7 linked regions of the Homo sapiens genome follow. The protein of the gene in region 4 interacts with the protein of the main gene of each other region in a biochemical or structural test. Each region holds a gene or a part of one and is shown on either strand. Other genes may lie near its edges.

Region 1 (3,500 bases), on a different chromosome or scaffold from region 4:
CTCTGTCACATCTTCATGTGTCTGTGCCTTTAATGTCTGCCTCTTCAACTGAAGTGCAAGCTCATGAAGGCAGGGGCTTTGCTACAGGCATTTCTGGTGTCTTTAGCTGTGCCTAGCATGTGGAAAGGGCTCAATCTATATTTGTTGAATAATTAATGCATTAATGCATCTCCTGAAGGGAAAGAAGATGCTCAGAGATACACAGTGCTGTGTGACTGGCCCATAGGATGGAAGGGAGATCCAACAGAACATGAGGCTGGAGTAAGTCTGCTTTCTAGAAGATGTGAGCAACTTTAACTCTTCTTACTGTCTTGCCATCATAACTATCCCATTAAGCAATAACAGTTCTCTGCCAGACATTTTCAATTATAGCTGATCCCTGCCCCACAGTGTGGTTATGCAGATCCCAAGAGATAAGCTGTAGCTAGAGAAGAGTGTTATAGGTGCAGTAGCTCATGGCTGTAGTCCCAGTGCTTTGAGAGGCCAAGGCAAGAGGATCACTTGAGGACCAGAGTTTGATATCAGCCTGAACAACATAATGAGATCCTGTCTCTACAAAAAGTTAAAAAAAAAATAGCTGGACATGGTAGCATAAGTCTGTACTCCCAGCTACTTGGGAGGCTGAGGCAGGAGGATCACTTGAGCCCAGAAATTGAAGGTTACAGTGAGCTATGATAATGCCACTGCACTCCAGCCTGGGAGACAGAGCAAGCTCCTGTCTTTATAAAATAATAATAATAATAATAATAATAATAATAATAATCTTTTTTAATTAAAAAAAAAGGAAAAGCGTTTACAGAATCCACTGGCCTTCATCCTTGGAGATGACATGCATGTTTTGGCCAACATAGAATCATTGTTTGAAAGGAACATCATTGTAATTGAAATACCTAACACCTGCTAGAATTTTACAAAAGGAACTAAGAAATTAAAAGAAAGTAGCAACAAAACAAATGCACATGTTCAAGTAAACAAATGGAGGTTCTGATGGATCCCTTCCATTCAAATTCATGTGAGTCAGAAAGATGAGAGAGTTTCTCCATTTCAGTATAGAAAGCAAGTGATAGTAGACTGAGTACAAATTAGGACATCAAATGGTGATCATTCCACCTCAAGAAACGGAGACAAGAACTGGGACAGAGCGCATAACACAGGAAGGACACAGTCGAGGGTGGCCGTCAGTACTGTGCTCGTATTTGGAATGGCTATCATCTGTGAGGTCTTACTACACACCAGAGACCCTGAGCTAAATACTTAAGCACTTGACACAGCTATCGTTTAACTCCCACAACAGCACTAGGAGGTAGGTTCTATTGCTGCTGTCATGTCACTAATGAGGACACTGAGCTTTACAAAGGTAAGGTGACAGGGCTACACTTCAAACTCTGTCTGGCTTTTAACCATCATGCCAATTAATCTGACCACTCAGACACCCACCCAGACCCTTACCCCCAACCACTGTACAACAGGCTCTTTTATGTGACAAATATGTTTTGTTTTTTTTTAGTTTTGAGATGATGTCTCACTCTGTCACCCAGGTTGGAGTGCAGTAACGTGATCCCGGCTCACTGCAGCCTCTGCCTCCTGGTTTCAAGCGATTCTCGTACCCAGCCTACCAAGTAGCTGGGATGACAGGCACTCACCACCATGGTGGGCTAATTTTTGTATTTTTAGTGGAGACGGGCTTTCACCATGTTGGCCAGGCTGGTTTCCAACCCCTGACCTCAAGTGATCCACCCACCTCGGCCTCCCAAAGTGCTAGGATTACAGGCATAAGCCACCGTGCCTGGCCGATAAATACGTATTTTTCAATTCCCTCAAGTCTTGTAAGGCAGCCAGGGTTACAAAGCACGTGCCATTGCTTCTGCACCCCTTTTTCTAATGGTTGCCCTGGAAAACTAAATGAGGAAGGCAGAATGGTAAAGAGGCCACAGAAGTAGCAGATCAACCCAGAGATGGCCACTCAGAAGATTCGAGACCCACCAACCAAAAACTCCTGTGCTACACTATACTTATCTCTTGAAAGGGCTGAAACTTGTTCCTCATAGACATCCAGCTATCTGAAGTTCTCTCACTACTCATCTCCTGGCCTGACCAATTCCCCTGCTCTCGATGCTGCTTCTCCAGTCACTTACAAGCCTGAAACTCCAATTTACAAAACAACAGTATTTAAAAGAAAAAAGGGGGCCAAGCACGGTGGCTCACACCTGCAATGACAGCACTTTGGGAGGCCGAAGTTGGTAGATCACCTGAGGTCAGGAGTTTGAGAAAAGCCTGGCCAACATGGTGAAACCCTGTCTCTACTACAAATACATAAATTAGCCAGGTGTGGTGGCTCATGCCTGTAGTCCCAGCTACTCAGGAGGCTGAGGCACGAGAATCACTTGAACCCAGAAGACGGAGGTTGCAGTGAGCCGAGATCATGCCACTGCACTCCAGCCTGGGCAAGAGTGAGACTCAGTGCCAAAAAATAAAAAATAAAAATAAGAGAGGAAAGGGGCATCCACATCATTTGATGGTAAACAAAAATTCTGGAGCTTTGTAGAATCAACTTAAATACAGAAAATAAGATTTAAGTAAATTCTTTATTAAGAACCTTATGAAATTGACTTATTTTCTGGCAAAGAGACAGCAAATGCTTGATAGTTTTCTCATATGGAAAAGAACAGTTATGTAACCAGCCCACATAGAAAAGCCACGCTGAAATCAACATAATGAGACTGGCACAGTTCTGCTTCTTTCTATAAGTCAAGATTACAGGGGGGATTTCATGCGGAACATACTTTTCATATAGCCTCTGTCCTCTCATAAAGGCCTTCACTTCATTATCCAATGGGAAGGTGCCGTCATCCTTTCTAAAGCGGTAGAAGAGTTTGACATCCTTGAATTCCTTATGCTCATCACACACTGAAACACAATATGCACAGAGAAGCAAATGAGAAAAAAAATCGCTCTTATTTAATTACTCAAGCGAAGTATGATGCTAATTAAGAATTATTTCACTATCACATTCTTCATGCATGCAAATATGTACCATATGAGCTAATACTTGTAAAATAGTTACATAGTACTTGGTACAGAGTAAGTCCTCAGTATTTTTAGCTATTATTATCACCATCACCATCACCATAGTCATCATCATCATCATCATCATCATCATATTTAGGAAGTTCACACAATTCAATTCATCATGCAATCCACAAATTCTTCTAAAGCATATTGGGGCATGCATCAGCCTCAAAGAATGTGAAATCTAGTGAGGTAAGGAGAAATGTCAACTGTAATTGAAATATGGTGTGATAAGGCTACAGAGGTAAGGAGAGAGTGCAATGGGAGCCCAAAGGAAGAGTACCCAGTGCCCCAGGAACACAGTGACACAGCTTTTGAAAAAGAAAGCTTCCCTGAAGAGTTTTCATGTAAGTGGAGACCTGAAGAATGAATCGAAATTGGGCAAAAAATGAGGCGAAAGGGTATTCCAAGAGAACGATGGCATGTGCAAA
Region 2 (3,500 bases), on a different chromosome or scaffold from region 4:
AAACAGAAAGGGGCAAGGGAGTGGGAGCCTGGCAAAGAAGAAGAGAATGAGCATGTGTGAGAGAAACAGTTTCTGGGAGGCAAGTGTGCAAAAGGCGTGACCAAAAGTGACGGTGCAAAAGGGGCAAGAGGGAAGGCGGGGGGTGGGGGGCTAGGAGTGTCATGGTGAGAGGGGAGAGTTGGGGAGTGGAAGAATCTGGGGTTTTTAAGAATAAGAAGGGAAAGTGCTTCAACGTAAGAAAATGGAGGTAAGAGTGTGTCAGGAGGGGTGCATAAGATAGCAAGTGTGCAAGGGCTGAGCAAAGAGCAGGGCACTCCAGAGAATGAATGATGTGCATGGAGTCTGTGAGGGGGAGGGAAAATGTGTCCCAAGTGTGTCTGCAACAAGGGTCCAGAGCGAGCGGGGAGGAGGAGATGTGAAATGGAGTGTGTAAAGGAGGGCCCTGGTAGGGGAAAAGTGTGTAAGCAGCAAGAAGCAGAGAAGGAGGCATGGAGCGTGAGAAAGGAAATGCAGCGTGTGCGAGGAGAGCAGAGTGTATTTGAGCGGGCCTCGCCAGCCAGAAGCAAAGGCAGAATGTGCAAGACAGCGAGAGGGCAAATTTGTGCAAAATTGCAGCCCGGGGACGGGAGGGGAGAGAGGTGAGCAGGCGTGCAACGGAGCGTGCAAGAGGCTGAGGGGGGCAGCTGTGTGTGCTGGGGAGAGGGGAAGGGGGGAGAGCTGAGGGGCCTGGAGAGAGTGGGAAGGGTTGTTAGAGGGGTGGCAGGTGGTGGAATCCGAGGGCACCCCCTTCCCCTGCGGCCTGGGGGACAGTCCCCATCCAATCGGGCTCAGGGCTGACCCTCTATGGCTCTGTCTATCCCCTCCCCCCAGAATAGGCCCTTCCCTCCTTCTCAATTCCCCTCTGTAATTTCTCCTATCCCCCCTCCGCTCCCCGCTTCACACACACACACACACTCTTGTGTCAGCTGCCCCCCTTCAGTGAGGTGCAAATGTCCGGCCTGGATTGGGCCACCTGGTGACCTCTGGCCTTGGGAGATGAGGGCAGGGCGCAGTTTGAACAGAGTCCCTGGCCCGGGGAGAGAATGACAGTCAGGGGTCAGAGGTCAAGAGGCCAGCAGGCTCAAGAGTTCTGTGGACGGGGCTGGTCCGTCCAGGCCAGCCATCACCTCTCCAGGAAGAATTTGAGAGCCCGGTCGATGTTCATGCGGTGGCCCACCCTGGTCACACCTAGATCGACGTAGTCCTCCTTGGTCAAGGCGGGCAGGTGGGAGCCATCGATCTCGTGGTCCAGGAACTGGGCTCGGTGCTCCGCCAAACCCAGCCACTCCAGCCAATCAGCCACGTCGAACTTGGTCCAGAACCCCAGAGGTTTAGCGCCAAACGGCTTGTCCGGGGGCAGCGAGAGCAGGCGGGTCGGTGAGAGGGAGCGCGAGGCCCCTGACAAGGCTCCCCCGAGCCCCCCGGATATCCCCGGGTGTGGCGGCACAAAGACTGGGGCGAAGGGGTCAGCCGAGCCTCCTGCCCCTCCAGTTGGGGAGCCACGGATGTCAAAGAGGCCTGGGTAGAGGGGTCCGGAAGGCAGGATGGGCAGGGACGAGGGCCTGGGCGCAGGGCTGACCTTGTGCTCCGAGGCGGGCAGCAGCGAGGGGCTGGGGGCCCGGCGGAGCAGAGGGGGCCGCATCTCGAACTCCACGCCCTGGAGGTGGCGGGTGGACGTGGAGGAGGAGGAGGCTGAGGGTGAGGTGGCCCCTGGGGCCGCAGCGGCTGTAGGGGAGACCCCTGTTCCGGTGGGGAGTGGCGGCAGAGGTGGTTTGGGCCAGTTCTGAAACAGGCTGCTGACAGGCTTGGAGAGGAGTGAGGACTGGGAGTCGTCGGAGAGTCTGGAATGTGACAAGGGGGCAGTGGGGGAGGACAGGGATTTAGGGGGCAAGGGCAGGGGTGAGAAAGAGGCAGAGGTCAAGATATAGGGAGAGAGGAGGAGAGACATAAGGGTAGGGGGAGAGACGGAGGAGAGACGGGAAGAAATGGAGGGAGCAAGGGGTAAGACGGCCGGCCGTCGAGGAAAGAAATGAAGGGAGAGAAAGATGAGAGGACAGGGAGAGGGCGACAGTTAAGAGAGATGAAAGAAAAAGAGACATTAAGTGATAATAATAATAATCGTCACCGCTTACTGATGCTCACGTGTGCCAGGCATTGTTCTAAGTGCTTTACATGATTGCATCTCAGTTTAATCCCCACGACAGCCCTGATGCAGGTTACTATTATTATCAGCACAGAGAGGTTAAATAACTTGCCTAAGGACACACAGGAAGTGGCAGAGCCCGGTTATATGGCACCAAAGTCTGAGCTCTTCACCACTATTCTATACTGCCTTTCAGGTTATGGCCAGTCGTAGCAGAGTGAAAGATGGGGAGACAGTGAGAGAGAGACAAAAAGAGGGTGAGCATCCAGGGGAGAGAGATGGAAGGGACAGGGGACACAGAGAGAGAGAGATGAAGAGAGGGAGATGAAAGAGAGAAGAAACAAGGGGAGAAAAAGGTTCCCCTCATCCCTTTCGTTCCCTCCCCTCCAGCACTGTCCCACCTCAGGGCCTTTGAACTGGCTGCTCCCCCTGCCTGGCTCACTCTTGCCCTGGGCAGCTGCTCCCTCTCCACTTTCATTACTCTGCCCACCTTGCCTGTTACATGAGAGACCTTCTCCACCCATCCCATTGTGGTAGCTTTTTTTGTAGGATGGTTGCAATTATTTTGTTTACTGCCCCGCCCCCACTCCTATGTCCCTAGACTATGAGCCCTGTGGAGTTGCACAGTCTTTGCCTGTCCTGTCCAGCAGGGGATCCCATCACCCAGAAGGGCACTCTGCACACATAGGTCATGAGTCAATAATTAATGCAATTGTTGACTGAATTAAGCATCCTTCCTGTTGCTGCTACAAGCAGTGGAAAAAAAAAAAAAGAAAAGAAAAAAAAAATCCTCTTCTCTAACCAGAATACTTAAGAATAGTCAAGGAATTGCATTCAGTTCTTAAAGGCCTAATAAACCCACATTTGTTTGTTTATTTTTACAGCGTAGGAGCATTGATTCAAGTTGCTCTAATAATATACACTTCCTTTTTCTTTTCTTTCTCTCTCTCTCTCTCTTTTTTTTTTTTTTTTTAAGACAGGGTCTCACTTTGTTCCCCAGGCTGCAGTGCCTTGGTGTCATATCAGCTCACTGCAGCCTCAACCTTCCAGGCTCAAGTGATCCACCCACCTCAGCCTCCTGAGTAGCTGGGACTACAGAGGCAGGCCACTGTGCCCAGCCTCCTTTTTCTTTTCTTTCTTTTTTTTTTTTTTTCAACCTGGGAGCATAGATTTAAGTTGCCCCAAATATACACTCCCTGAACCCACATTTGAAGGTCAGACACATTTGGATAGCAGACCTTCAAACAGAATTCAAGTGAACTCTGTAGATGGACAAGGATATTTAAAACCTGCTCCCAACCCTCTGTGTATCTGAAGC
Region 3 (3,500 bases), on a different chromosome or scaffold from region 4:
GGAAGCCTTCCCAGAGGCAGTGACTTTTATGCTGGGTTCTGAAGAGTAAATAGGAGTTTTCCAGGCAGAAGAGAAAGGAATAGTTCTCTTTACAGAGGAAACAACATGTGCAAAGGGACGGAGCAGTGTTGGGGACCGGGGAGATTAGTGTGGATGGTGTGCTGGAAAATGGAGCTGAGAGGTTGGGCAGATCACGCAGGTCTCAGATACTCAGCTAGGGTGTTTAGAATGTAACCCATAGATAAATACAAGTTTTTAAGCAGGGGGATGACATGGTTGGAAAAGTGACCCTAGCACCTCTACCGGAGGTTGGACTAAGATGCCACAGAAAGAACACAGGGCATACCCTGGGTGGTTCCCATGGGCCAGAAGACACAGTGCCTCAAGATCCCATTTTATCTTTTGGAAAATACTGTGTGTGTGGCTTTGTGTGTGCCCTTGTTCTGCAGAAGACCTGATTTTCCTCAGAAGTGTGCATCCCAATTCTGTTATGGAAATCAATGAGAAAACACCATGTGTTTCAACATTTTTGTTTGAGAGCCAGCCTTGCTGAAACACATCCGATCTATATAGGGACGGTCTGTCTTCCTGTCTCCTTTTTCTGGAGATGAGAACTAATTGACTAAAGAATTAAAAGCATACATCAGGGTCAAGTGTATGTGTGGCTCCTTTGCTCTCAAAAAATAAAAAACAATGAAGAATTAAAAGTTAGGACTAGGGGTCCCTTAAGTGATTCTTTAAAAGCCACAGCATATGCTGGGCGCGGTGGCTCATGTCTGTAATCCCAGCACTTTGGGAGGCTGAGGCGGGTGGATCACCTGAGGTCGGGAGTTCGAGACCAGCCTGACCAACATGGAGAAACCCCATCTCTACTAAAAATACAAAATTAGCCGGGTGTGGTGGTACATGCCTGTAATTCCAGCTACTCGGGAGGCTGAGGCAGGAGAATCGCTTGAACCGAGAAGGCAGAGGTTGCAGTGAGCCGAAATCATGCCATTGCGCTGTAGCCTGGGGAACGAGCAAAACTCCGTCTCAAAACAAAAAACAAAACAAAACAAACAAAAAAAAAACACAGCATCAGGGAGTCAGTTAGCAGAGTGGTTAAGGGTATAAGCTGGGCATTTGGCAGAGAGACCGATTCTGGCTGTGCTCTCTACTGGTTGTGGGTCACTGTGCACAGTGCTGAACCTCTCCGTGCCTCAGTTTTCTCAGCTGCAAAAGGAAAAGCCTCCTTTTGCCTACATCAAAGAGTTGTTGTGTGAATCAGTGATACGCCTGCCTGGAAAGGCACAGTGCCTGATACAGGGACATGCAATGAGGTGGAAGTGCCTGGTTTAGACACAGCAGCAGTGAACTCCCAAATGAGTGCCTAAGCCTGCTGCTGTCCCTGCGTGCTGTGATGTGACATCTCTTTGCCCAGCTTTCCTTCTTTCTTTAAAAGATACCACCAGGCCCCGAAAGAGCCATGAGAAGGAAGGAGTGGAATATCACTTTGTGTCTAAGCAAGCATTTGAGGCCGACTTACATCACAACAAGTACGTTGCTTGATGGGCCAGTTGGCCCTCCAGGCAGTTGTGTGTTTTTGTATCTGTATTCCACTAGAGCTCCTGGGAGGACTCCCGGAAAGGATGGGGGAAGCGGGAGAGAAGTCATGTTGGGAGGTCCCCTTTGCTTTGCTAATTTAGGAAAGCTGAGGAACTAAAGGCCTTTTCCCCTTTGGTGGTGTTTTAGGTTCCTGGAACATGGTGAATATAAGGAAAATCTGTATGGAACCAGCCTGGAGGCCATTCAGGCTGTTATGGCCAAAAACAAAGTTTGTTTGGTGGATGTGGAGCCAGAAGTGAGTTGCTGGGCCTGCTGGCCATTTCTGGTTAACGGAATTTATAACTAGGGGATTGTACATTTTACACAACACTTAACCTCAGTCTAAGGAATTTTTAGTCTAGAACACTGGCTGTTCAATTTCTTTGGGTCTTCCTTTGAGAATCAAATGAAAGCCTTGTACCCCAAAACATGCCCCTCTATCCACAAATGCTGCATTAATTGTAGGGAGCTTGTGGACACTCTGGTGGCCCACAGACCCAGGCTAGTAACTCCTGCGTGGAACAGATCATGCAATAGTTGGTGGCGCTGACTGGCCATTGCAATGTGCCAGAGAATTAGATGTCAGTACCCAGGTGAAACTGGGGCTGAGCTCTCGGTGCCAGGCCTCCCCCTCCCCAACCAGGGCAGGTGGAGTCAGTGGCTTAGAGAACCACTCAGGGAGGCAGTGAGGAGAGCAGTTTAAAGGGGAAAAAGAGGGAGGGAGACACGGCCCTGGGAAGTGCTTCAAAAACATTTCCACTCCTGCACACCCAGCATGCTGTGGACTCAGCAGGGGCTTAACCATCTTTTTAACCTTGTCTTTTAGAAAAACTTCCAAGCTTTGAACTCAATCTGGGGATTTTTTTTCCCCTCTATAGAAACAGATCTCTGATTTTATGCTATAAACTGTAGGCTTTATTTTAAAGAAGTTTGCTTGAAATATATTCCAAAAAGCACGTTATGCCTATAAAGGAAAACACTCATTTGGACTTACAGGGAGTTAGTGATCAAAATTAAAAGTCTGAGTTTCAAAATTTTCTTTGAAAAGTGATTTTATTGATCACTTTATTGATCAAGGGTGCAGATAATGCATATAGCAGTTTAATACTAGTGTTTCCAAGTGGAGCCCTTACTTCTAGATAAAATGCATTAATCAAGAGTACAATTTCTTTTTCTTTTTTTTTGAGACAGATTCTTGCTCTGTCACCCAGGCTGGAGTGCAGTGGTGCGATCTTGGTTCACCGCAAGCTCCGCCTCCCGGGTTCACGCCATTCTCTTGCCTCAGCCTCCCGAGTAGCTGGGACTACAGGTGCCCGCCACCACGCCTGGCTAATTTTTTGTATTTTTAGTAGAGACGGGGTTTCACCATGTTAGCCAGGATGGTCTTGATCTCCTGACCTCGTGATCCACCCGGCTCGGCCTCCCAAAGTGCTGGGATTACAGGTGTGAGCCACCGCACCTGGCCCAAGAGTGCAGTTTCTACAGTCTACAGTTTTAAATGATCTGTTCAGTAATCTCATTTGCTTTGCAAACCTTTTCTTCTTTGAATACCAAGAGGAGATGTAATAGCACAAAGTTTGTAATAATGTAGTCCGATTGATGACATTTGACTAAATAGATACACACTGACTCCTGCTTCCTCACCCATCAGAAATGGAAGGTGGAGAGGAGCCTGAGAAGGTTAATTATAGCCGGAGGAGTCAGAGCTAAGAGAGACAGCAACTGTCTCTGAGCTGAGGCTTAGGAACCTTCTGTTGGCAGTGAGTGTGACTTCAGGGCCCCGCTGAGTTCAACGTCAAAGTGAAGGATGAGAAAAGGAGCAGTTGGTCTGCCCAGTTGAAGTCCATTGTCATGGGACCCATGTAACCAGGACCTTTGCTGTTGAGGTTATGGTATTGAAGCACACGATTATTGAG
Region 4 (3,500 bases):
TGTTTTTGAATATTATGTGTTCTTTTAAGCAGCTTTATATTGTTTCTAGAGTAAATTAGGTAAAACACCATTTGAGGATGCTTATAACATTTTCACTGGACAATTACACCCCTCTTTAGTGCAGTTTAAGATTTCAAAATAAGTAAGAAAGAATGTCACCAGATGCATATTTAAAAACGGATAGAGATATTAAGTAAGGATTTATTTCCACATATTTTATTTATATGCACAATCTCCAAGTATTCCAAGGCTCTGTAGAAATGGGGTGGGTTCAGCAGATGTAGAGATGGGTGGGTTTTGGGGTGGCTCATTGGACTGTTAAAAAGATAAGTCCTATATTGAGAGATCAGTAAATTAACATCAAAGTATACAGACACAAACATTTATAACACCCACACATGTAACACGCACACACACACACACGGCATTTGTGTGAGTAAAAATGTGGATATGTAAATAAGTTTTCTGAGAAGATGTGTGGAGAGTGTCTAGGATAAACTTTTATAAGTATGAGAAAATTCAATATTTGTAGACATTTTAGAGCATTGATAAGTTATTCTGTGACATTTACGATTTCTATGGAGCCCTGAAAAACCACATGTTCATCCTGCGCTAAGGTGAATATGATATGTTGTACACGTGGTTTGATGTTGTTTATGTGAAGAAGCTTCATGCACTATGACAATAACATGGATTACCATTCAGGAGACCTAGATTTTAGTGCCCACTAAATGCCCACGAACTCCAACTTTGTCAACTCATTTAACATCTTTATTGACTCACTTAACATATATTTGATAAATGACTTCATTTATAAAATAAGATAGTAAGACTAATCTCTAAGAGCTCTTCTAAAATGTCAACATATAGTGAATTTGTTTTTCAGAGCAGTATTTAAATCTATAGTCTTTATATCAGTTGTGTTGGCCAAAACATATAATGAAACCTGCTATCATTTACTATCACATTGATAGAAATATACTACTGGTCAAGTTATATTCACCATAACTAATCTCCAGATATGACAATCTAAGCCTTTAATATGTGTGTTATTCATAGCCTAACAATATTGGCATTAACAAGGGGCTTCATAGTATAAAAACATATCTTACGACACACAGCAACTTAAGAAACATATCCACTAAAATTCCTAGATGTCCGTCATTGTATAATTGTTGATAGAATGCTTTGTTTTTTCTTTTTTGTTTGTATTGTTTTCTGCTAGTTATTAAATTGCAGTGAATGACATTTGTGTAAAATATCTATAGTCCCAGCTTGAGCTCATTCAATCAACAGCAACAACATAAGCTAATGTAGACCGAGTTCTTTTGTGCCAGGTACTATTCTTATGCTGAACTTACCTCATTTCATTCCATCCCATCAACAGCCTTGTAAAGTAAGAAGAATGAAACTTGCTCAGCAAGAATGTAAAACCAGGCTGTCAAGCTCCAGGGCCCAAGCATTTAACCACCATTCCGTGCTGCCAACCTAGTGTCAATTTCATTTCCAGCACAAGTGATCCAATCTGAAAGCCACTTGCTTGGAGCAATGTGGCTTTCCTTCTTCAACACAAATTACCCCACAAGATAATGACATACAACACAATTTCTGTGAAGAGGGAAACAGGACAATTGGTAGGTACCTCTCTGTGGGGGACTATCAATGCTACTTTATAGCTATGAGAATGATTCTGGAACCCTAAAATTCTGATATGAATAAATAATTGAGAAGAGAGATTTCTCCCCACCAGGCTCCAAAGACACACTATCGTTACCCCCCAAGGGTAGAAGAAGAAGAAATAAAGTAGAAATCCTTACAGGAAAAAGCCTACAAAGCAATGAGTTCCTATTTCTTATTAAAGGCCTCAGAAGATACCTGGCACAGTGTAAGTGCTAAGTATTTATGAGATGGAGCGATGAATGATTGCTAAAGTACATCACATGAAAAATATTTGAGTTCTGGAAAAAAATGATGATATATTTCCTACCTTCAGCAAAATGTAATGTCTTACAAGCACTATGGAAAGGCACATATAAATTTAACACATATTCAGTGAAAAAGCAGAATGTGAATTGTATCTAAACTACAACTACACTTATATAAAAACGGTATGTGTATAGGTAAAAGACCTGGAACATGGCAACATGAGAAGTTTGATTTATTGGAATAAATTGGCCTGTGGCTTTTTCCTTTTATTTAAATGTTCACGTTCAAATGTCCTTTGATCCAACCACTTTGTAGCACTTACATTATTCCAGTATTATTGTTGGTATGTTGGTTTCCCTGCTCAATCCCTGAGCTCCGTGCTGGCTGAGACATCGGCTGCCTCATCTGCATGTTTTTAATACTTGGCACAGTGATAGAGTTCACCCATCATGGTGGTTAAAAACTTGTGTTCTGGAGTCAGACAAAGCTGGGTTCAGGTTGAGAGTTACTACTTAAGAGTAGCATAATCTAAGACAAATTGCTTAATCTCCATAAGCCTCAATTAGCTTATATGTCAAGTAAAGAAAATAATGGTACCTATTTCATAGGATTGTTTTAGTGATTAATAAGATAATTCAGTAAAAATCTATTTAAAACACATTTACTTTAATATCTAGCACATAGAGAGTGCCCCCAAGATGTTAGACATGCTACTGTTATTATTATGACTTTAAATTGTGAATTGAATTGGGTGGTATTGTTAGTGAAACAGGGAACCTTATTTTATATTACATTAATGGAATTGTAACTCACTTACTTCATGGTTATAGAAGTGTCCATTAATAGAGGCTCTATTTTTCTGTCTTTCTTTTCTGTCCATCATCAGAGGCTTCATCCTTTTTCTCACCAGAGCTGCTTCACTCATGGTTCTATAGAGCACTGGGGAGTCTGGTTCATCCTTTGCATGTGGCTTCAGGGTGTTGCTGTGATAAGATAAATAGTCTGGGAAGAATAGATTATAAGCTCATATCATTCAGCTGCCTGTGTCCTAGCATCCTGAGTGGATTTGTGTATGCTTTCATTAATTTTAGGAATATTGCTATTTTCTGGCTGTGTAAAAGCATTATAGTCCACTGCTTAGCTGCATATTTACTTATTAAATGTTGCCTGAGACTGACTCAGCAAATTCTGCCAGTATCTCATATAAAATTCTTATGTCTCATTCTTATGTTTCATAAGAAATGATCACAATGATCATGTTTGGGGTTTGGGCATTCCTTTAATCTTAATTTATTGGGGAGTGCATTTTGTGGCATTTCAGAGTGTTAGAGCTGGAATAAACCTGATACTTTATCAGGTTTGATCTCTTACAGGTAAGAAAAAGTACAGTGAGTTGAAGTGGCTTTCCTATGGACATAGTACTCATAAATGATAGAATCAGGTCTGGATCCTTATTTTTTTATTTTTATTTTTATTTTATTATTATTATACTTTAAGTTTTAGGGTAATGTGCACAATGTGCAGGTTAGTTACATATGTATACATGTGCCATGCTGGTGTGCTGCACCCATTAA
Region 5 (3,500 bases), on a different chromosome or scaffold from region 4:
GAGTCCTAAGCTCAGCCCCTTCTCTTCAGGGGCTTCCTGAAAGAGTGGCACTTACATAGGCTTTCTCTGCCATCACAATGTGGATGTGTAGCCCATACAGGGCAGGAAAAAATAGAATGGGTACCATCAGCCCACGCAGGGACTGCTTAGGGCACGTACCCACCTCTGCAAGGATGCAGACACTCCGGGGCCTGTGCCGCTGGGCTCTCGCTGCTTGTCCCACGCAGCCTCTTCCTGAGCAGGTAGCTTCTGTTCTGCTGCACAGAGGAGCTTTCCTCCACAACTCTTTTCTCCACCTGGGGGTCAAGTGCATCACACATCCACATCCCAAGATAAGGAGGGGGCGTTTTTATAGATACATGCAAACTGGCTGTCAGACTGAATCAATGTGGAATTGTCTGCCCTATACGGTGACCTAAAGATGTGTTCTCTGGCACCCAGAATGTGCTCTGTGCCCACCCCCTGCATGCACCCTGAAGGCACTTCACTCCCCACTCCAGACCTGCACACTCACACACATCTGTGCCTTTGCTCATGCATTCCCTCCATGGCTACAGCCTCCCCAGAAGCTCCTCTGTGCCCACAAGACCCAGAGCTGTGTGCTTTCTACTTCTAAGCCTCTCTACCTCTGCCGTCTGATCACCTTCCCTTATCACTGCACTCACACCTGGCTCTGTTGCATCATGTTCCATGAGTGTGCTGCTTGTCTGTCTCCCCCAACATCTCTGTGTGCTTTATGCACCACCGTAGCACACCTAATGCAGTGCCCAATGAATGTTGAATACGTGACTGACATCTACCTTGCAGATCCCTGACGGAAATGTTGCAGGTCAGTACACTGTCTATCCAAGGACAATGGCACACCAGTGGATGGTAGACCTCAGTATCTTTCAAATAAATATAGTCCATTTCCCCCACCAAATCCTCTGGCTCAATTCATAGGAGCCACATGTTCCTATGCCAAGAGAGAAGGGGTCCAAGAAGGAGGCCTTCTCTGATGGCAGAGGCCTTCTCTGATTGACTGTTGCCGCTGTCCACCCTGCTGTCCCCACATCTCCATCCACTTTGGCCCTCATTAATCCTGCTCTCAGCTCTCCAACTTGTCCCTGGACAAGTGCAGCCACTCAACTGGCCTCTAGCTTACCTGTCTCTGGTTCCTCCCAAATACAAACTTCCTTACATTTTGTGCCATAGGCACCTCACTTGCCCATCCTATCCCAGCTCCACTCAGGTCTCATGGGGGACCAACTCCATGGTGCCATTCCTGCAACAGAGCTCCCCAGGGGGCCAGGCTGGGCCTGTCTCCAGCTGAGACTATATCCTTCAACTTGTCAGCTGTACTACCATCACTCCCCTCTCCCAGGAACATTTCCCCAGTAAATAACTTGCACAAGAATCCCTGTCTCTGGGTTAGCTTGGAGGGAATCCAACCTAAGCCAAATGCCTCCCATGTGCCAGGCCCCTTGCTGCACTCTGTGGAGTGCACAGGGCAGCAAGCAGCACAGTGTGACAAGCACAACAAAGGACACCCCACAGGTATAAAATAGCAGAGGGGAGGGTACCCAGGGACCACAAAAACGAAGTCGGGGAAGGCTTCTGTGCAGAACCTAGAGTTGAATTTTGATAAGAAAACTGAATCATGGGTTCTAAACATTATTGCTTTATGTAAGGACGCACTTGCAAAGATGTCAAGGGTCTTAGCCATGTGACAAACTGGGGCTTGCCTAAAGGTCTTTGTTAGCACTGCCCAATAGAACTGCAATGACAAGAATGTTCTAGATCCACCCTGTTCAATAGGGTCATCACCTGCTACGAGTGGCAACGGAGCACTTGAAATGTGACAGATGTGACTGATTAATTTAATTTTTTATTTTATTTTAGTTAATGATAATATAACTAATTCAAATTTTAATAGCCACACATGACCAGCAGCTACTGCTTGAAAAGCACGGTTCTCTACTGACCTCAGAAATGGTACCCAGAACCAAGCCAACCAGCCTTCTGATGTGGAGACCAGCAGGGGCTGGGTAGACAGACACTTCTTTCTCATGAACCCGACAAGCTTCCAGAACCGACTGCAACGTGCACCGCCTGTGAGGCTGGTCTTCACACATGGTCAGCAGGATGGAGTGCAGGGGCTCGCAGAGCTGCAGGGGCTGGAGGCAGACAGGGCCGGTGAGAGGAGAGAGCAGCCAGAGCTGCCACTACGAGGCCAGCACCTTGTCAGGCAGGCCTTGGAGACATGGAAACGGGTGTTCCCACAAGCACCAGAGCAGATGCCTGCCCCTTCTGGAGAGTTTAAGGACAGACACAAGATCCATCACTGAGGCCGCAAAGTGCGGAGCAATCATCTCTGCAGCAATTCTGTGTTGTCTGCTGCTTTCTAAACCAGAACATCCTTCTGCCCAAGCACATGCTTGGAATGCTCATGAAAACTAGATGCTTTGACAAGATGGATTTCCACCTGTGCCAAGCACCCCAAATCAAACCAGAGGTCAGCCTTTCACTCAAGTTCACCTGCGTAGCTTGTCATTGTATCCAATCACTCAGGGGGTCTCACTTGGCCTTTCCCCTGGAATGTGAGCTCCTGGAACATACAGACTGTGGCCTATTCCTGTTCACTTCGGAACAGCCAGCAGTCAGCACAAATGCTCAATCGTTGTTGGTTGAACTTTATGTCACGTGTACACATCGAGCAAAAGAAAACAGAAGCATCTTATAAGCATTTCCCTCATGCATTTAAATGACCACAATTCATAGGAGAAAGTCCTCAAATTCAGATTCAAAATCAGACTTTTTCTCAAGCTCAACACACACTGCAGGTCACTTTCCAGATAAAGGCTGCACTACCGCTTCTTGCTGGGGAGCATCAGCTGTGAGCACCTATCTCTGTGTACAGCCAAGCTGCTGAGTCCTGCCGTCACAGTAAATCCAGGCGTCTTTTGTGCCTGGTGCTGCACAGCCACACCAGATACAGTCCCTGCCTTCAGGAAAATAATGGTGTGATGAGAGAGACGGTCACTAAAAGAGACAAAGACCATAGAGGATGACAAGGACTTTCACCTTGGGAAGCACAGGCCATGGCACTAATGTAGAGGAAGGGGCTTAGCCAAGGCTAGAGTTAACCAAGAGGAAAGTGGGGAGTGAGGTGCTGGTGAAGGGATCCGTGTGTACAAAGGCACGAAGATGCAGATGAGCTGACATGCATCTGAAGGGAAGGGGATTATGAGCAGGACAGGGGCCTGGGGGAAAATAGCAATGTGGGGTCCCTTGTTCAAAATTATTAAGAATTCCAGGACAGTGATAGCAGAGCATTAAACTAAGTGCAGGACCCTGTGCTATGACACAGGGTCACACACTCAGGACACACACCCAGGAAGCCGGTCCTGATTATGGCAGAGTGCCAAAGGGGAACCAGACGGGAGCAGGGACCCTATCCTAGGCTCCAGGTGTGTCTCACTGAGAAGTCAGAAGGCAACCCCACGGCCAGTGAGGCGTTA
Region 6 (3,500 bases), on a different chromosome or scaffold from region 4:
TCTAATTGTATTATTCTCCAGTCCACATTTCTTAAGTCCTATTCTTCAAGGATATCTCATGAGGGACTTTGCCAAATACCCTAATATCCAAATATATCACTGGCTGCACTGCTTTAATATATAAATCCCACTTGGACAGAAATTCAATTTTCCTACCTAATGATATTCGCTGGTAAAAGAACCCTCACTGGAAGTTGCTCTTTAATTTGGGTGTTAACAAATTTTGTAAAGTTATTTTAAGGAAAATCTTAATCATACTGTGCTCAAGAAATGGGATATGTGGTCAAATTCTGAATTACCTAAAGGTTTACAAAACACAAAGCCCCGCCAAAACACGTAATTTGTGTTTAAATCTCCTAAGACATTTGTCCAATCCCTGCCTTATGACACAGCAATTAATCACCTTACAATGTAAAGTGCTGTACACAATTAAGGCTTTTAACAAAACCCTTAACAACATATTCTCTCAAATCCAGGAACATAAATATATTCTTAATATACAGATTGCCAAAGCTGAAATTTAGAATGTAAGTTTTTCTAATTGCAGGAAGCTAATGATAGCAAATGGGTAGAAAACCTAAACAGTGTAAGTCTGAGTACTGTAAAGTTTAAAAATTAACACCTGCATTTGGAATGTGTTTTTTTTTTTTGTTATTTACTCTGCTTTTAAAAGTAGAATGGAGATTCAGGGGGTAGGATTAGGAAGTGAATAGAGGCTAGTGTAAGGTGTTAGTGTAATTTAGTTTCTTAATTTATTTTCTATCTATAAATCATATCTTTCCCTTTGCTTTTCTTAATTCAAATGATACCTGAAGTAAACATTCCAGATGCAAAAAAAAAAAAAGATAAGGTTTTCAGTAGCAATAATTAGGGCCAATATTACATTACCTCACTTTCTCCCCAATTTTTACTGATTATTAGTAAATACTCTTAATTTCAAGTATGTACAGGGAACAGAACATAAGACACTGTTTCTTTTACAAGCTGGTTTTTGTTTCCTTTTAAGCCTGCACCCCACTGACCTAATTTTAGATTTTAATTTCAGCATTCCCTGAAATGAAAATCATCACCTTAATTAAGTTCTGACATGATTCAGAAGTTTCAGAATATAAAAACACCTCTTAATTAAAAGCCTGGTGAAACAAAGCATTTTAAAATGAGTATTTCACAAAAACATTGTTATTTTAATATAAAATTTAAGATAAGGTTCAAGACCATGCAATGATACACAACTTTTGGAACAAAACTGATTTTCCACTAGGGTAAAACTACTATTTTAAAACCAGAATAGTACAATGATATATAATATATAATTCTCTCCCATATGTATGCATCTATATCTTAAAATTATTTATGACTATTGGATATGCCTGGCACTATAAAACATATGCCAAAATAGAACTTTTAAAATGACAATGTAAAAAACAAACATAAATAGAAACCCTAAATATTTTTCCTGTACATGGTGAAGCATGCTGTGGCTTCAACATGCATTCCCTGGAATATAATATCACCTGAGAGGGTTTGGCTTTTAAGATTTTATTACAGAAAATTTCCAATATATACAAAAGTACAGAGAACAGTAAAATCAACTCAGTGGTAGACCATAAAACATGGTAACAAATTCCTCCTATCCTTATAAGCATATCTCTTTGCAATGTAACTTTACTAAAGCTGCTGCTAGAGGTATAACTTGGTTTCTTCATCCCTCTCTCAGCAACCAATATAACTAGAAAAAAATAAGTGGAGGCACAGGCAACCTCAACATCATCAACCTTGATTTAACTGACACTTATAGAACATTATACTCAACAATGGCAAAATACATTCTTTTCAAGTGTACATGGTAAGTTCACCAGGATGTAGAAGGTCATGAAACAAATATCAGTAATTTTAAAAAGACAGAACTCTTACAAAGCATGTTTTCTGACCATAGTGGAATTAAATTACAAATTAGTAACTAGGAAAACCCCAAATATCTGGAGAGCAAAACAACACACTTCTAAATAATTCATGAGTTAAAGAAAAATCACAAGAGAAATCCAAAAATATTTCAAATGAAATGATGAAAATGCAACCAATCAGAATTTGTGGGATGCAACTAAAGTAGTGTTTTAGAGGAAATTTATAGTTTTAAATGCTTATATAGGGGGGAAAATCTAAAATTAGTGACCTAAGTCCCCATTTTAAGAAATTAAACCCCAAAGTAGAAGCAAAGAAATAATAAAGAACAGAAACCAATGGAACAGATACTTAAATAATAGAGAAATCAATAAAAGCTGACTCAATAAAATGACCAATAAAACTGGTAAGCCTATAGGCTAAACTGATCAAGAAACAAGAGAGAAGACACATATTACCAAATAAATGGCTATTACCAAAAAGACAAAAAAAAAAAAAAAAAACAAAAAAACAAATATTGACAAGGATGTGGAAGAAGAGGAACTCCTATACACTGTTAGTGGGAAAGTAGATTAGTTACAGCTATTATGAAAAACAGTACAGTGGTTCCTCAAAAATTTAAAAATAGAACTAGCAATGATCCAATAATCCCACTATTGGGTATATAGTCAAAGAAAATGAAATTGGTATGATGAAGATATACTTGCACTTCCTTGATTACTGCAGTACTATTCACAAGAGCCAAGCTATGGAATCAACCTAAGAGTCCATCAATGGATAAATGGATAAAAAATGTGCGGTATACAAACACAGTGGAATACTATTCAGCCACAAAAAACAAAACCCCAGAGAAAAGTCATTTATGACAACATGGATGAACCCAGAGGACATTATGTTAAGTGAAATAAGCCAGGCAGAGAAGGACAAATACTGTATGATCTCACTCATATGTGGAATCTAAAAAACTTGATCTCATAGAAATAGACGTAGAAGAGTGGTTACCAGAGGCTGGGGAGAATAGGGGGAGTGGGGAGATCAGAAGTGGCTATAAAAAGTTACAGTTAGGAGGTATAAGTTCTGATGTTCTATTGCACAATAGGGTAACTATAGTTAATAATGTATTGTATATTCCAAAATAGCTGGAAGAGATTATTTTTAATATTTTCACCACAAAGAAATGTTTGCGGTGATGGCTATGCTAGTTATCCTGATTTGATCACTTGAGCTGGGAAGGTGGAGGTTGCATTGAGCCATGACTGCACCACTACAGTCCAGCCTGGGCAACAGAGCTAGACCCTGCCTCAAAAACAAAAAAAACCCACCACCACCAACAAAACCCAAAAAAGACTGAAAATGAACTCAGTGGTAGACCATAAAACATGGTAACAAATTCCTCCTATTCTTATAAGCATGTCTCTTTGCAATGTAACTTTACTAAAGCTGCTGTTAGAGGTAAAACTTGGTTTCTTCATCCTCTCAGCAACCAATATAACTAGAAAAAAGAAGTGGAGGCACAGGCAACCTCAACATCATCAACCTTGATTTAACTGACACTTATAGAACATTATACTCAACAATGGCAAAATACATTCTTTTAA
Region 7 (3,500 bases), on a different chromosome or scaffold from region 4:
GGGTTAGAACAGTGAGGAGTGCTTGCTGAGGAGCTGGCAGCAGGGACAACACCAGAATTCTCTTTATTGTTGGGGTCAATCCGGAAGCGAATGGCAGAAATAGAAGACACTCGAGAGTCGATGACTGATTTGGTTTCCATGGTCTCGGGCTCCATCTCCATGACCCTGGAGGCTGGGTTTGTGCTCTTGGTCTCCCTCAGAGGAGCCAGCAGCCCCAAGGCCTTGGTCTCCAGAAGGCCAGGCTCACCCTGCATGTCCTGCAGAGAGGACACAGTTGGGGAGGGTGCACCAAGGGCCAGGTAGGGCTCCCTGTCATAGTAGCACACGTCGTCTACACTCTCCAGGGAGGCTGATGGCACCAGGGGAAATGAGACCTGAGAGGTGTAGTCGGTCTGTAGGAAAGACCTTCTTTTCCTCAGGGTCTTGGCATATTTCTTCACCCCTCCCCTCCTGCTTGGCTGTCTTCCATCTGGCCCACAAGGCAGGCTGTTCTCAGGGCTAGAAGTGCTGGCCTTATTCTGCAAGCTTGTGGCACTGGGTTCTGCAGTAGAAACATCTCTGGGCCCTGGGAGTCAGGAAAGAAAAAATACATTAAAAAGCACAAAAAAAAGAGGTTAATAGAGCTTGGGCTCAGGCCTTGGGCTTTCCTGGGTTTAAATTCTGGCTAGGCTGTGTAACCTTGAGCAAGTTCAATCCTGATCTCCTCAACTTCCTCATCTGAAAGATGGGGATAATAATTGTGACAGATTTTTTTTTATTTTTTTGAGACGGAGTCTCTTTCTGTCACCCAGGCTGGAGTGCAGTGGCGTGATCTCGGCTCACTGCAACCTCTGCCTCCCAGGTTCAAGCAATTCTCCTGCCTCATCCCCCCGGAGTAGCTGAGATTACAGGCATCTGCCACCATGCCCAGCTAATTTTTGTATTTTTAGTAGAGATGGGGTTTCACCATATTGGTCAGGGTGGTCTCGAACTCCTGACCTCAAATGATCCGCCTACCTAGGCCTGGGATTACAGGCATGAGCCACCGCGCCTGGCCGACTTTTTTTTTTCTTTTTTTTTGAGACAGGGTCTCACTCTGTCCCCCAGGCTATAGTGCAGTGGTGTGACGGCTCACAGCAGCCTTGAACTCCTGAGTTCAAGCAATCCTCCCACCTCAGCCTCCCAAGGTGCTTGGATTATAGGATTGAGCCACTGCACCCAGCTGTGATAGACATTATTAAATTTTTGGATGCCTAAGATCCATTTAATTATCTTTTGGTCACAGCATCTCAACTTCTGTTTAGGGAATGACATCTCCCCAATGGTTAGAGTCTGCTGGAACTGTTCACGAAGATGCTCTGTCCACGCCAGCCAATCAGCTACAAATTCTCCAGAATTCCAAACCCAAAGACATTAAAAAAAAAAAAAAAAAAAAAAAAAAAAAAAAAAAAAAAGCAGAGCCATTCTTTCCAACCACAATAGCTTGATAATACAGGTAGGGAATCCTGTGACTAGACTCTTAGCCTGGTTGCTGTCTATTTCTGAACCCAGGTCTTCAGGCTTGCCAGCAATTCTATAAACAATCTTACTTCCTAACACTTTTTCTTTGTGCTGATGTTAACCCAAGTCTTTTAGTGCCAATGGTGCCATTCAGTGCTGCCGTGCAGGTTAAAGGAATTAGTGCATTTTTATAAAGCACCCAGCACAAGGCCTCTGCCTCATTAGGTATTCACTAAAAGGAAGCTGCTCGTTATTGCCATTTCATGTCTGAATGTAAAGGGGCCACAACTCTGTCACAGGCATCGAGTTTTGTGCATCCCAGGATGGATCTTTCTGGGAGGAGAGGCACTATTGTAAAGAACCCTTGGGAATCAGCCAGAAGGAATTAGGATCAGAGCCTAGCACTTGAGAATCAGAGAGCTTGGGTAGTCAGACCAGTCATTTCTAACCTGGCTGTATGCTATTAGAAACCTTATCAAGTCCTAGGCTGCTCCCCACAATCTCTGAGGAGTCAGAATCTCTGAGGCTAGGGCCTAGGGATCTATAAGGTTTAGGTTTTTTTGTTTTTTGTTTTTTGAGACAGAATCTTGCTCTGTTGGCCAGGCTAGAGTTCAGTGGTGCAATCTCGGCTCACTGCAGCCTCTGCCTCCCAGGTTCCAGTGATTCTCCTACCTCAGCCTCCTGGGTAGCTGGGATTACAGGTGCACGCCACCATGCCTGGCTAATTTTTGTACTTTTAGTAAAGATGGGGTTTTGCCATGTTGGCCAGGCTAGTCTCAAACTCCCAACCTCAGGTGATCTGCCTGCTTCTGCCTCCCAAAGTGCTGGGATTACAAGTGTGAACCACTGCGCCCGGCCAAATCTATAGTTTTTAAACAAGGTCCCTCAGGTGATTCTGATGCCCAGTCACATTTGACTGCCCTAGGCTACTGACAGCCACCGACCAAGGAGTTTCTAAGTCCCAAAGACAAAGAGGCTCCAATAGTCAGTCAGGGGCCAAATCAGAACCCAGGCTGAGGAATCCTAGTTCTGGCTCTTTTCTCAGCACTACACTGGCTCCCTATAAAAAACAAAAACAAAAACAAAACAGTGTCTGGTATGAACCCCATATGTTCCTGACTAGACTCCCATAAAAGGGCCCTGACTGATGGTTTCTGCCACACTTCCATCCTGCCCCCCGGCACAATGGCTGGCCCTGCAGGGCAAGGCTGGGGCATGGAAAGTGGTTGTCTGGGTACTTTGGGGAGCAGTAAGGAGTCTGGCCATGGTTTCTCCTTTCCTTAGAGGTACAGTCAATTGAACTCAGTGTAGATGGTGGAGACTTCATTCATTCATTTAACAACAATTGCTAGACGCTGTGTGCTGGGGACACAGTGAGAAACACACAGTTCTAACGCTCAAAGGAGTTCTCGGTCTAGTGATGGAGAGAAACATCAACACAGAATCATACAAGTAAATATGTAATTTACAGGCTGTGCGAGGTGCCAGACAGGGAGAGCCCCAGGTAATGCAAGAACATGTGACAGAGATGGGGAGACTTGCCCTGGCCTGGGAAGCCTGGGAAATGTTCTCTGAGGAAGTGAATTCCAACCGGAATCTGATAGACGGATGGGCACCATCAGCCACGATCTGGGGAGGAGTGTTTCGGTCAGAAAGAGCAGCATGTGCAAAGGCTGGAGGAGGGGGAAAAAACAGGCACTTGTAGAAAGTGGCAAGGAGGTCTGTATGGCAGGAATGCAGGAGGAGGGAGAGAGACAGGCAGAGGCCATGTCACAGAGGGCCTCAAAGGGCCTGATGGGGCTCCCAGAGGAGCTGGCCTTTCTCTCCAGAACAGTGGGAGAGCACAGGAGGTCTGGGAATAGAGGATCAGAGAGCAGCAGGAAAGTGCCGAGACAGGAACAAGGGCTGCAGCTCTCCCAGCTCCTGGCAGGTCACCTTCAACATCCATGTGCTCTTTTCCAATATGTTTCCTTCAGAATGCAGTGTGTGTGTGTGTGTGTGTGTGTGTGTGTGTGTGTGTG

The links.
Region 1: the proteins of RASSF6 (region 4) and DEPTOR interact in a test that uses a peptide from one of them, tested with the Homo sapiens proteins (one large-scale study listed by IntAct).
Region 2: the proteins of RASSF6 (region 4) and SHANK1 interact in a test that uses a peptide from one of them, tested with the Homo sapiens proteins (one large-scale study listed by IntAct).
Region 3: the proteins of RASSF6 (region 4) and MPP3 interact in a test that uses a peptide from one of them, tested with the Homo sapiens proteins (one large-scale study listed by IntAct).
Region 5: the proteins of RASSF6 (region 4) and FRMPD2 interact in a test that uses a peptide from one of them, tested with the Homo sapiens proteins (one large-scale study listed by IntAct).
Region 6: the proteins of RASSF6 (region 4) and PDZD8 interact in a test that uses a peptide from one of them, tested with the Homo sapiens proteins (one large-scale study listed by IntAct).
Region 7: the proteins of RASSF6 (region 4) and FRMPD1 interact in a test that uses a peptide from one of them, tested with the Homo sapiens proteins (one large-scale study listed by IntAct).

What each region holds. Positions count from the first base shown.
Region 1 is NC_000008.11:119,929,222-119,932,721, reverse strand, and holds part of DEPTOR (DEP domain-containing mTOR-interacting protein), read right to left. Parts: intron 2,908-3,500; coding exon 2,784-2,907; intron 1-2,783. UniProt on the Homo sapiens protein: Negative regulator of the mTORC1 and mTORC2 complexes: inhibits the protein kinase activity of MTOR, thereby inactivating both complexes. DEPTOR inhibits mTORC1 and mTORC2 to induce autophagy.
Region 2 is NC_000019.10:50,660,803-50,664,302, forward strand, and holds part of SHANK1 (SH3 and multiple ankyrin repeat domains protein 1), read right to left. Parts: intron 1,881-3,500; coding exon 1,163-1,880; 3' UTR 1-1,162. UniProt on the Homo sapiens protein: Seems to be an adapter protein in the postsynaptic density (PSD) of excitatory synapses that interconnects receptors of the postsynaptic membrane including NMDA-type and metabotropic glutamate receptors via complexes with GKAP/PSD-95 and Homer, respectively, and the actin-based cytoskeleton.
Region 3 is NC_000017.11:43,809,147-43,812,646, reverse strand, and holds part of MPP3 (MAGUK p55 subfamily member 3), read left to right. Parts: intron 1-1,441; coding exon 1,442-1,535; intron 1,536-1,731; coding exon 1,732-1,840; intron 1,841-3,500. UniProt on the Homo sapiens protein: Participates in cell spreading through the phosphoinositide-3-kinase (PI3K) pathway by connecting CADM1 to DLG1 and the regulatory subunit of phosphoinositide-3-kinase (PI3K). Stabilizes HTR2C at the plasma membrane and prevents its desensitization.
Region 4 is NC_000004.12:73,582,437-73,585,936, forward strand, and holds part of RASSF6 (ras association domain-containing protein 6), read right to left. Parts: intron 2,929-3,500; coding exon 2,744-2,928; intron 2,398-2,743; coding exon of another isoform or gene 2,383-2,397; exon of another isoform or gene 170-2,382; intron 1-169.
Region 5 is NC_000010.11:48,240,197-48,243,696, forward strand, and holds part of FRMPD2 (FERM and PDZ domain-containing protein 2), read right to left. Parts: intron 2,157-3,500; coding exon 1,965-2,156; intron 297-1,964; coding exon 164-296; intron 1-163.
Region 6 is NC_000010.11:117,291,941-117,295,440, forward strand, and holds part of PDZD8 (PDZ domain-containing protein 8), read right to left. Parts: exon of another isoform or gene 1,524-3,500; intron 1-1,523. UniProt on the Homo sapiens protein: Molecular tethering protein that connects endoplasmic reticulum and mitochondria membranes. PDZD8-dependent endoplasmic reticulum-mitochondria membrane tethering is essential for endoplasmic reticulum-mitochondria Ca(2+) transfer.
Region 7 is NC_000009.12:37,741,454-37,744,953, reverse strand, and holds part of FRMPD1 (FERM and PDZ domain-containing protein 1), read right to left. Parts: intron 566-3,500; coding exon 1-565. UniProt on the Homo sapiens protein: Stabilizes membrane-bound GPSM1, and thereby promotes its interaction with GNAI1.